3 linked regions of the Homo sapiens genome follow. The protein of the gene in region 3 purifies or fractionates together with the protein of the main gene of each other region. This does not show direct contact. Each region holds a gene or a part of one and is shown on either strand. Other genes may lie near its edges.

Region 1 (3,656 bases), on a different chromosome or scaffold from region 3:
TGGATTAAAATCAAGTTCTGGGCCCGACACAGTGGCTCATGCCTGTAATCCCAGCACTTTGGGAGTCCGAGGTGGGTGGATCACAGGGTCAACAGATTGAGACCATCCCGGCCAACATGGTGAAACCCCGTCTCTACTAAAAATAGCAAAAATCAGCCGGATGTGGTGGCGCGCATCTGTAGTCCCAGCTACTTGGGAGGCTGAGGCAGGAGAATCGTTTAAACCCAGGAAGTGGAGATTGCAGTGAGCCGAGATGGTGCCACTGCACTCCAGCCTGGGTGACAGTGCAAAACTCCGTCTCAAAAGAAAAAAAAAATCAAGTTCCTGCCTTTTACTATTTCAGTGGTGACAATGGATATTGGAACTTGAGGGAAATTCTAATGTAGTTAGTTGTATCAGTCTTAGATTTCACTGCAGGTTATCAAAAATCCCAACTAACACTGGCTTAAGCAAGATTTGCATCTTGTTTCTCATTGTGTTTAAGATGTCTGGAGGCCATCAGTGTAGGGATGGCAGTATTGGGATTTCTTTATCTTTCACCCCAGCCTGCTTGATTGACATTCCCAAGGTCATCTCATGACCCATAATGATTGTCAGAGCTTTAGCTATGTTGTCCACATTCCAGCTGGCAGGAAAGAAGTGTTAAGGTGGGACATACCACTTTCCTTAAAGAACGTATCTTGGAAATTTCACACTTCAGATCCTTTTAGATCCTATTGACACAACTTAGTTACAGGGATACCCTTAGCTGCCACCTAGGTCCAAGAGAGCCTGGAACAGATAGATTTTACTCAAGGAAGCCATGTTTTTCTGGAACATTCTGGAGTTCTGTTACTGTGGTCACAGTGAACCATGTCTGTCACATGGGTGGTTCTCAAACTTGGTTGTGTGTTAGAATTACATATCAAAAATGTGTATCCATGAGACCTACCCCAGACCTACTGACTAAGAATCTCTGGGAGTAGCCCCTGAGAATACAGATATTTAACAAAAGAATATATCCAGATGATTCTAAGATAGGAGAGATTGTTTGGAAACCACTGCTTTAGGCTGGACACAGTGGCTCACGCCTATAATCCCAGCACTTTGGCAGGCCAAGGCGGGTGGATCACCTGAGTTCAGGAGTTTCAGACCAGCCTGGCCAACATGGTGAAACCCTGTTTCTACTAAAAATACAAAAAAATAGCTGGGCGTGGTGGAGGGTGCCTGAAATCCCAGCTACTTGGGAGGCTGAGGCAGGAGAATCGTTTGAACCTGGGAGGCGGAGGTTGCAGTGAGCTGAGGTCATGCCATTGCACTCCAGCCTGGGCAATAGAGCGAGACTCCGTCTCAAAAAAACAAAACAAAACAAAAAAAGGAAACCACTGCTTTAAGGAGCAGCACATAGGATTGATGAATTTTCTTTATCCCTGTGTTCCTTGAAACATAAAACAGTCATATAGGAATTCAGATCTTGAACTCGTTGACTTTTTTTTTTTTAAACTTTAAATTCTGGAGTACATGTGCAGAATGTGCAGGTTTGTTACATAGGTATACATGTGCCATGGTTGGTTTACAGTACCTATCAACCATCATCTAGGTTTTATGCCCCACATATATTAGGTATTTGTCCTAGTGCTCTCCCTCCCCTTGCCCCGCCCCTCAACAGGTCCCAGTGTGTGATGTTCCCCTCCCTGTGTCCATGCTTTCTCATTGTTCAACTCCCACTTACGAGAGAGAACATGTGGTGTTTGGTTTTCTGTTCCTGTGTTAGTTTGCTGAGAATGCTGTTTTCCAGCTTCATTCATGTCCCCACAAAGGACATGAACTCATTCTTTTTTATGGCCGCATAGTATTCCATGGTGTATATGTGCCACATTTTCTTTATCCAGTCTATCATTGATGGGCATTTGGGTTGGTTCCTAGTCTTTGCTATTGTGAATAGCACTGCAGTTAACATACGTGTGTGTGTCTTTATGGCAGAATGATTTATAATCCTTTGGGTATATACCCAGTAGATTGCTGGGTCAAATGGTATTTCTGGTTCTAGATCCTTGAGGAATCACCACATTGTCTTCCACAATGATTGAACTTATTTACATCCCCACCAACAGTGTAAAAGCGTTCCTATTTCTCCACATCCTTTCCAGCATCTGTTATTTCCTGACTTTTTAATGATCGCCATTCCAACTGGCATGAGATGGTATCTCATTGTGGTTTTGATTTGCATTTCTTTGATGACCAGTGATGCTGAGCTTTTCTTCATATGTTTGTTGGCCGTATAAGTGTCTTCTTTTGAGAAGTGTCTCTTCATACCTTCGCCACTTTTTGATGGGGTCATTTGTTTTTTCTTGTTAATTTGTTTAAGTTCCTTGTAGATTCTGGATATTAGCCCTTTGTCAGATGGATAGGTTGCAAAAATTTTCTCCCATTCTGTAGGTTGCCTGTTTACTCTGATGATAGTTTCTTTTGCTGTGCAGAAGCTCTTTAGTTTAATTAGATCCCATTTGTCAATTTTGGCTTTTGTTGCCACTGCTTTTGGTGTTTCAGTCATGAAGTCTTTGCCCATGACTATATCCTGAATGGTATTGCCTAGGTTTTCTTCTAGGGTTTTTATGGTTTTAGGTCTTATGTTTAAGTCTTTAATCCATCTTGAGTTAATTTTTGTATAAGGTGTAAGGAAGGGGTCCAGTTTCAGTTTTCTGCATATGGCTAGCCAGTTTTTCCAGCACCATTTATTAAATAGGAAATCCTTTCCCTATTTCTTGTTTTTGTCAGGTTTGTCAAAGATCAGATAGTTGTAAATGTGTGGTTAATTTCTGCGGCCTCTGTTCTGTTTCATTGGTCTATATATCTGTTTTGGTACCAGTACCATGCTGTTTTGGTTACTGTAGCCTTGTAGGAGTACCATGCTGCTTTGGTTACTGTAGCCTTGTAGTATAGTTTGAAGTCAGGTAGCATAATGCCTCCAGCTTTGTTCTTTTTGCTTAAGATTGTCTTGGCTAGATGGGCTCTTTTTTGGTTCCATATGAAATTTAAAGTAGTTTTTTCTAATTCTTTGAAGAAAGTCAATGGTAGCTTGATGGGAATAGCATTGAATATATAAATTACTTCGGGCAGTATGGCCACTTTCACAATATTGATTTTCCTATCCATGAGCATGGAATGTTTTTCCATTTGTTTGGGTCCTCTCTTATTTCCTTGAGCAGTGGTTTGTAGTTCTTGAAGAGGTCCTTCATAACCCTTATAAGTTGTATTCCTCAGTATTTTATGTTCTTTGTAGCAATTGTGAATGGGAGTTCACTCATGATTTGGCTCTCTGTTTGTCTGTTATTGGTGTATAGGAGTGCTTGTGATTTTTTCACCTTGGTTTTGTATCCTGAGATTTTGCTGAAGTTGCTTATCAGCTTAAGGAGTTTTGGGCTGAGAAGATGGGGTTTTCTAAATATATAATCATGTCATCTGCAAACAGAGAGAATTTCACTTCCTTACTTCCTGTTTGAATACCCTTTAATTCTTTCTCTTGCTTGATTGCCCTGGCCAGAACTTCCAACACTATGTTAAATAGGAGTGATGAGAGAGGGCATCCTTGTCTTGTGCCAGTTTTCAAAGGGAATGCTTCCAGCTTTTGCCCATTCAGTATGATATTGGCTGTGGGTTTGTCATAAATAGCTCTT
Region 2 (3,550 bases), about 62 Mb from region 3:
ACAGTGAGCTATAATCGTGCCACTGCACTCCAGCCTGGGCAACAGAGGGAGAACCTGTCTCCAAAAAACAAATAAATAAATAATGAATTAGGGGCCTGCTTCTGCTAAAGGCAACCTCTGGCATGTATTTTAGGGCTTACATGTGCCCCTGGTTTTGTTTTACTTTTCTCTTATTATTTTCCTCCCGCAGCCCCCATATCTTTCCCCATCAGTGATTTTGTGTTTTTGTATTACATGCATTTTTAAGGATTTCTTAATCCTTTCTACGGAATATGGGAAACATCAATCAACACGAATGTATTAAAAACTAAAGAAAAGACTGATTCTCTCTGGTATAAATAAAACTCCTATGACTTTAACTAATTTGTGATAAGCTAAAATTTCTAACATTTTTGAGTTCTTCTCATGCATTTTACTCAGTTCAGGCCAGCGATGAGAATATTCATTCTGCATTGGATAGCTACATATATGAATTAAAGTCACAGGGCACTTAATAAAAATTTTCTACAAAAATAAGACATTTCATTTATTAAAATTTTATAGAGAAGCATACAAGACTACAACAAATCACTGAAGTCAAGGTCTAAAGTCTTTGAGAAGTCAGATGGACCGGACGCAGTGGCTCACGTCTGTGATCCCAGCACTTTGGGAGGCCGAGGTGGGCAGATCATCTGAGCTCAGGAGTTACAGACCACCCTGGGCAACAAGGCGAAACCCCGTCTTTACCAAAAATACAGCCAGGCATGGTGGAGCATCTGTGGTCCCAGCTACACCAGAGGCTGAGGTGGGAGGATTGCTTGGGAGGCAGAGATTGCAGTGAGCCGAGATTGTGCACTGCACTCCAGCCTGGGTGACAGAGACCCCGCCTCAAAAAAAAAAAAAAAAAAAAAAAGGCCGGGTGCGGTGGCTCATGCCTGTAATCTCAGCACTTTGGGAGGCCAAGATGGGCGGATCATGAGGTCAGGAGTTCGAGAGCAGCCTGGCCAATACGGTGGAACCCTGTCTCTACTAAAAATACAAAATTAGCCGGGCGTGGTGGTGCATGCCTGTAATCCCAGTTCTCCGGAGGCTGAGGCAGGAGAATCGCTTGAACCCAAGAGGAGGAGGTTGTGGTGAGCCGAGATCACTTCAGCCTGGGCAACAAGAGCAAAACTCCATCTCAAAAAAATAAAAGCCAGGTGGTTGTCTAACTATAGGCTTTGCATATTCTGGTCCAGGGGTTGCTGAGGAACAAGGCCAATGTGAGGAACAACAGCAACAGTAAGCCCTTAGCAACACACTGAGAATGCAGCTCCCCTGAAAAACAATGGACAAAATTCAACAGCAGTATTTCTTAACTCTTTTGATAACAGTGTAGGTATAGGCTGGGTGTGGTGGCTCACTCCTGTAATCCTAACACTTTGGGAGGCCAAGGAGGGCGGATCACTTGAGGCCAGTTCGAGACCAGCCTGGCCAGCACAGTGAAACCCCGTCTCTACTAAAAATACAAAAATAGCCAGGCATATTGGTGCTGTAATCCCAGCTACTCCAAAGGCTGAGGCACGAGAGTTGTCTGAACCCAGGAGGCAATGGTTGCAGTGAGCTGAGATTGTGCCACTGCACTCCAGCCAGGGTGTCAGAGCAAGACTCTCTAAAAAAAAAAACAGTGTAGGTAGAAATAAACTAAGCCAAAACAGTAATGGTGATCACTTCCAAGTGGCAATATTATCCGTACTTTTTTTTAAGTTTCTATATGTTTTATGCTTTCTGTAACATTTAGACATCATTTAAAAAATTTTTTTAAATTGACATAACATAATTGGTCATAGAAATCTGTTTCACCCTACCTTGATAATACTGAGTCCATGGATATAGAAGCTGCGGCCAACACACCTCATTTCTGTTGCAGTCATACTCTGTATAATTGATCTGGAATCTAGAAAACATTTTAGAGGGTTACAAAAACTACAAGTGAGAAGTATCAGAACTTGATTAAAGGAATAAACTTCCAATTTTCAAATATATATTTTTCTGCTTCCTAATGTCAACTAGGTGAGCAACTGGAGTACCTTGTCAGGGGGTGGGGTAACTGTGCAGGAATTTTAATAAACTGGACGGATGCACTGATAGGGAGAAGGTCGGCCTTGTGCTCACAGGTAAGCCCACACTGGTACTGCCAGTTCACTGAGGAGAACCTAGGAGGGAAAGATCACATGGTCAGCATAGCCACCATTCAGTTCTATTCCACCAAGAACAGCAGGTAACGGATGCAATCACAATATAACCTGAGGTTCTCCTAAGAAGTTTCGCATTCTACCTGGGCTGTTTTTTCTCAGTATTTGTCCATGGTCTTTGACCATTTCCACAGACAGATCCAAAGAGAAGAGAAACTCCTAATAACCCCTCATGGGCCTGTCGCCCAGCAACATCTGCCAGTCTTGTTGTCAGTCTCACTCCTCTCCAGCCAGTGCATTGTATACAGGTGCTATCAAAGGTACCTTTGTTCATCACCTGTTTTTCTCAAACAATATAATAATAAAAGCAGCAGCTAGCCACTTATTGAGGGCTTTCCACGTTCGAGGCACAGAGATAACTTGCTTGCAACACACCATCTCATGTTATCCTCAGAAGAGTACTGCGGAGGTGGTAACTGCACTCCCATTTTCCCTTGCAGAGCCACCACTCTCCATTTCCAGTTCAGTGGAGCAGAAGGAATTGGCCCTAATCCAGAGGTGCACCCATCACCTGAGCCTAGCCAATAAGAGCTGTCCATTGCCCCAGTCATAGGGATTGGTTCAGAAAGGAGCACATGACCTAAACTGAACCAATAAAAGTCTGCCCAGATCTATTTTGAGAAAGAGGAGGGGCCGGGCACGGTGACTCATGCCTGTAATCCCAGCACTTTGGGAGGCTGAGGCAGGCAGATCACCTCAGGTTGGGAGTTCAAGACCAGCCTGACCAACATGGAGAAACCCCATCTCTACTAAAAATACAAAATTAGCCAGGCGAGGTGCCACATGCTTGTAACCTCAGCTACTTAGGAGGCTGAGGCAGGAGAATCGCTTGAACCCGGTTGGTGGAGGTTGCAGTGAGCCAAGATGGCACCACTGCACTCCAGCCTGGGCAACAAGAGCAAAACTCCGTCTCAAAAAAAAAAAAAAGAAAGAAAGAAAGGAAAGAGGAGGAAAGGGGCTTTCTCCCCACTGGACTTGCTGCAGTGACATAAGCCTGGATTGCTGGTGCTGATCTTTGCCATCTCTTGAGGAGAACCTCCCTGAGAATGAAGCCAACCCAAAGGAAGAGGAGCTGAGATACGAAAACAAAAAGATCCCTGACCACACTGGAACCATGAACCATGAACTAGCTGTATGTGGATTACTCTGAACTTGAACCAATAAACTCCCCTTTTTGCTTAAGTCAGTATGAACTGGGCGCCTGTCACTTAAAACCGATGGAGGCAGGCTGGGCGCGGTGGCTCATGCCTGTAATCCCAGCACTTTGGGAGGCCGAGGCGGGCGGATCATGAGGTCAGGAGATTGAGACCATCCTGGCCAACAGGGTGAAACCCTGT
Region 3 (3,656 bases):
GCATAATCCACCCAAAGAAAGTCAAAGTGTTTTTCTTTATTATTAAACTCAACAGAAAGTTCCATGTGCAGCTACAGGAGGCCATAGGCAATTAACACTGAAAATTGAAAGGTTCAGAATGTTTGCATGACCTTTAAAGGGCAACACCGTTGCCCATTCACATGCATGCAATTATGCAGTGACTAGTTTGTAGCAGCAAATATATATATATTTATTTATATTTAGTAAAACAAACCTTGCATTCATCAAAAACTACTTTGAACTTTCCAGGCTTCATGTAGAGAGTTAGCTTTACATAGTACAGGAGACTTGTTCAGCTGGTTCTCTTCATTTTGTCAAATTACTAAATTCAGCCTATCACCGTAATTGCTAGAATGCAACATTATCACATTATTGAATCTCTCTGTAGAGTTTCCAAAATCTACTGCATAAAGCTACGTTTAAAAGAAGCAATATAAATATAAATTTAATTGAATGACTATGTTTGTACTATTGCTGGGGAAAGGGAGATGTAACTTTGCTAACTAGCCATTCAGGGGAAATCATAAAACAATTACAGCTACTATGGAGTAACTTAGGAGATTGAAGGAAGTGATTAAAAGGACTTTATCTAATATAAACATATAAGCTCTGATTCCTTAGTTATATATCTCATACTCCACATGAACCACTGAACAAAATAGAGTATTCTTCTTACAGCTTAAATATTTACTCTTCATCTGATTTCAAGTAAACTAGAAACCTTATGTTTTCCAATGGCAATACCAATCAATTGCCTAAGTATTCCACTGACTAGCTTGCCTAATATTACAGCACAGGATAAAATCCAACATATCCATGTGGTATACACATTAGAAACAGGTGGATTTTGGAAAACTAACATAAATTTGGAGTATGATATCAATATATTTCTGGCAATTTTGTAGATACCATTTTAAACGAGAATAGTACACGCCAATGTAATACATAGTTTGTGCATTGACTATGGAGGTGTATATTCAATAAAGACAGCAGCACACAGATATGTTCAGCGTTCAAAATGTGTCAAAATTCCCAGTTGTAGTGTCAATAAAAACATCCACAGTGTCTCCGCATTGAGGACAAAAATGATTTTTTTTGCATTTGTAGCCTAGTAAATAAAAGTATCTCCAAAAGAAAAATTCATGAGAAAAATAGAATGTATTAACAATGGCTCAAACAGTAAAACTCAGTTATAAATGACGTTGTCACACTATGCATACAGTTGTACTGCAAGTCAAATCATGGAAAATAGTGGAAAAACTATGCACCTATAAAGGCAGACATTCTACAAAGTTGTTCTGATCACCCTGTTACGTAAAACCAGTATTTTACATGGGTGTCATTTAAAGCATATGTATGTATGTATGTATGTATGCATGTGCATATATGTATAGATACAGAGATTATATTGTTAGGTACTACAGAGAAATATATTTAAATACTTTCACATTCCAATATGTCTAACTTATCCTCTTAAAATTTCTGTAAGATTAAGAAGACAAGAATTGTTTATTTCATTGACGACACTGCACTGAATGAATCACTGCACTGAATGAACAAAATCAGACCTTCTAAAAATTACCCAATAAGTCAGTGGCCAATGACAATTAAAAAACAGAAACTAACTTCTATGTCTCTGTTTGCTGGGCTCACCTGTCAATCTCCTGTTTCAGATTGTGCTCCGAACCTAAAGTAAAACTGTTTTCTAAAGACTAATGGTAACTCAGTGTGAAATTATTTCTTCTCTTTCGATGGAATAATTAAATAGTTCAATATGCTCAAAGTAGTTCAAAATAAAGTTAACCAAAGAATTTTCAAATAAGATGGTAAATTCACCATATTACATGGCATTATAAAATCAGTGGTCCAAAAGCAGGCTATATCATGTGAAATTTTGTGTAAGCATGTGGCCAGATATGAAGTTGATGCAGCTGGTTTGGCCTTCATATCTAGCAGCAGGCTGTGTTAATGCATTTCTTCTCTTTGTTTCGATGAAGCCCTACTAATAACAGGTTGATGAATTGCATTTGCAAATGTCAGGCATAGATCAAAGGGGATGACGGCTTGGATGATTATTTTACCCCAAGTTGTGATTTTTCACCAAGAAAACAAAACTGCATTGCACAGTAAGGTTCCTTATTTTTACTTGAATCTTCAATGAACAAAACAGCTGCAGAAAAATGTGACTTAATGAGGCATCCCTAATAAAATACTGCAGAAGTAAAAGCAGGGGCACTGAACTGTTTGCACTCTGGTTGTTTCATCTTTTCAAATATATTAGAAATAACTGATGACACTTTGGAACATTCCTTGTTTGGGACATGCATTAGAGAGTTCGTCAGTAAATGTTCATCAGTTTGCAGTGATTGCTGAACTTTGGTGCAATCTGACAGGACCTTTTCTTAGGGGCCAAGATAAGAAATGACTGAGAAATCCTGAAGATACATATCTTACCCTTCCTGTATAAGGTAATCCATAACTTGCAATTAGTGATAAATCATCCTTAAATGTGTATTTTAACACAAAAATACATTTAAAAATGATCATCAAAATACTACATTGAAGACACTGGATCCAGGACTACTAACATTTTCTGATAAAATATAAAATAATTTTTAAATTTTTCTACCACCCTCTAAATTTTATCATTTTATAAATTTTTAAATAGGAAAACTGGCCATATCTAAAAACATATTTTTACAGCCATGTCATCACATTTTATAACTTGGTGGTTAGTAAATACCATATTGCCATCTCTAAGCAATATGTAATCTATTTTTACATAAATCCATAGGCAACTCAATGAATCTTCATTCTCCAATTTGTCATTGTTAAAATAGCTAATATTTTTCTAATGCAATATCACATATACTTAGAAGCCTTAATTCCCCTTTAGCAGAACCTGTAGCATTATATAGGCATTTGCTTTAATGTCAAAAATTCTGGGTTCATCTTTAAGAGACACATATCGTAGCACTCTACATAAATATGAATTCAAGCATCCTAAAGTACTAAATTTTTTAAAGGCAAGAAAAGAATCAAGATTTTCACATAAAAAAAAAAATGCCTAATCTGAATAAAACAACACACTAAAGCCATTTGCCTCTTAAAAGATTCCCTGTGCCTAAGTATTCAGTTGGCAGTGACATCAACCTCACGGACTTTTAGTATCTATAAATAATACAATCCAACTTTTTTATTGAAAATTAGGAAAATGAAAATATTTATAAGCTCCAGTGTGGTAACTGATGGCCTTTAAGTGGCTACTGGTGGCTTTAAAAATTAAGATTCTAAAAAGAAAGGTCAACTCAAACAATTGACTCAGGATGAGATTCAAAACAAAATAAAGTAAGGAAAGAGACAAACATGTCTGATCTTTTATTTGAAATATAGGATGTTAGGTGCCAATTTTGATATTGCAAATGATTAATCAGTCTGAGAGTACAAATGCAAACATGGAAAGGCTGGGGTAAGTACAAATAATCTTAATCTTCTGATTTTTAAAGCTTTAGAAGTGTTTTTAATCTCCTTTCCTGGTTATTTTGGTTTAGCACTTTACACAAAAATCTTAAATTAATTGTTCATTTGTCTTAACTTATATGCCTAATAAAGCAGTTTAGGAGTGTTAATTGACA

What was found.
Region 1: the proteins of TAFA2 (region 3) and LARGE1 purify together in Homo sapiens (affinity purification with mass spectrometry; one large-scale study listed by BioGRID and IntAct). This does not show direct contact.
Region 2: the proteins of TAFA2 (region 3) and TCTN2 purify together in Homo sapiens (affinity purification with mass spectrometry; one large-scale study listed by BioGRID and IntAct). This does not show direct contact.

Annotation. Positions count from the first base shown.
Region 1 is NC_000022.11:33,644,421-33,648,076, reverse strand, and holds part of LARGE1 (xylosyl- and glucuronyltransferase LARGE1), read left to right. Parts: intron 1-3,656. UniProt on the Homo sapiens protein: Bifunctional glycosyltransferase with both alpha-1,3-xylosyltransferase and beta-1,3-glucuronyltransferase activities involved in the maturation of alpha-dystroglycan (DAG1) by glycosylation leading to DAG1 binding to laminin G-like domain-containing extracellular proteins with high affinity.
Region 2 is NC_000012.12:123,705,350-123,708,899, reverse strand, and holds the end of TCTN2 (tectonic-2 isoform 1 precursor), read right to left. Parts: intron 2,175-3,550; coding exon 2,049-2,174; intron 1,916-2,048; coding exon 1,827-1,915; intron 1,297-1,826; coding exon 1,187-1,296; 3' UTR 501-1,186; downstream 1-500.
Region 3 is NC_000012.12:62,186,118-62,189,773, forward strand, and holds part of TAFA2 (chemokine-like protein TAFA-2 precursor), read right to left. Parts: intron 1-3,656. UniProt on the Homo sapiens protein: Has a role as neurotrophic factor involved in neuronal survival and neurobiological functions.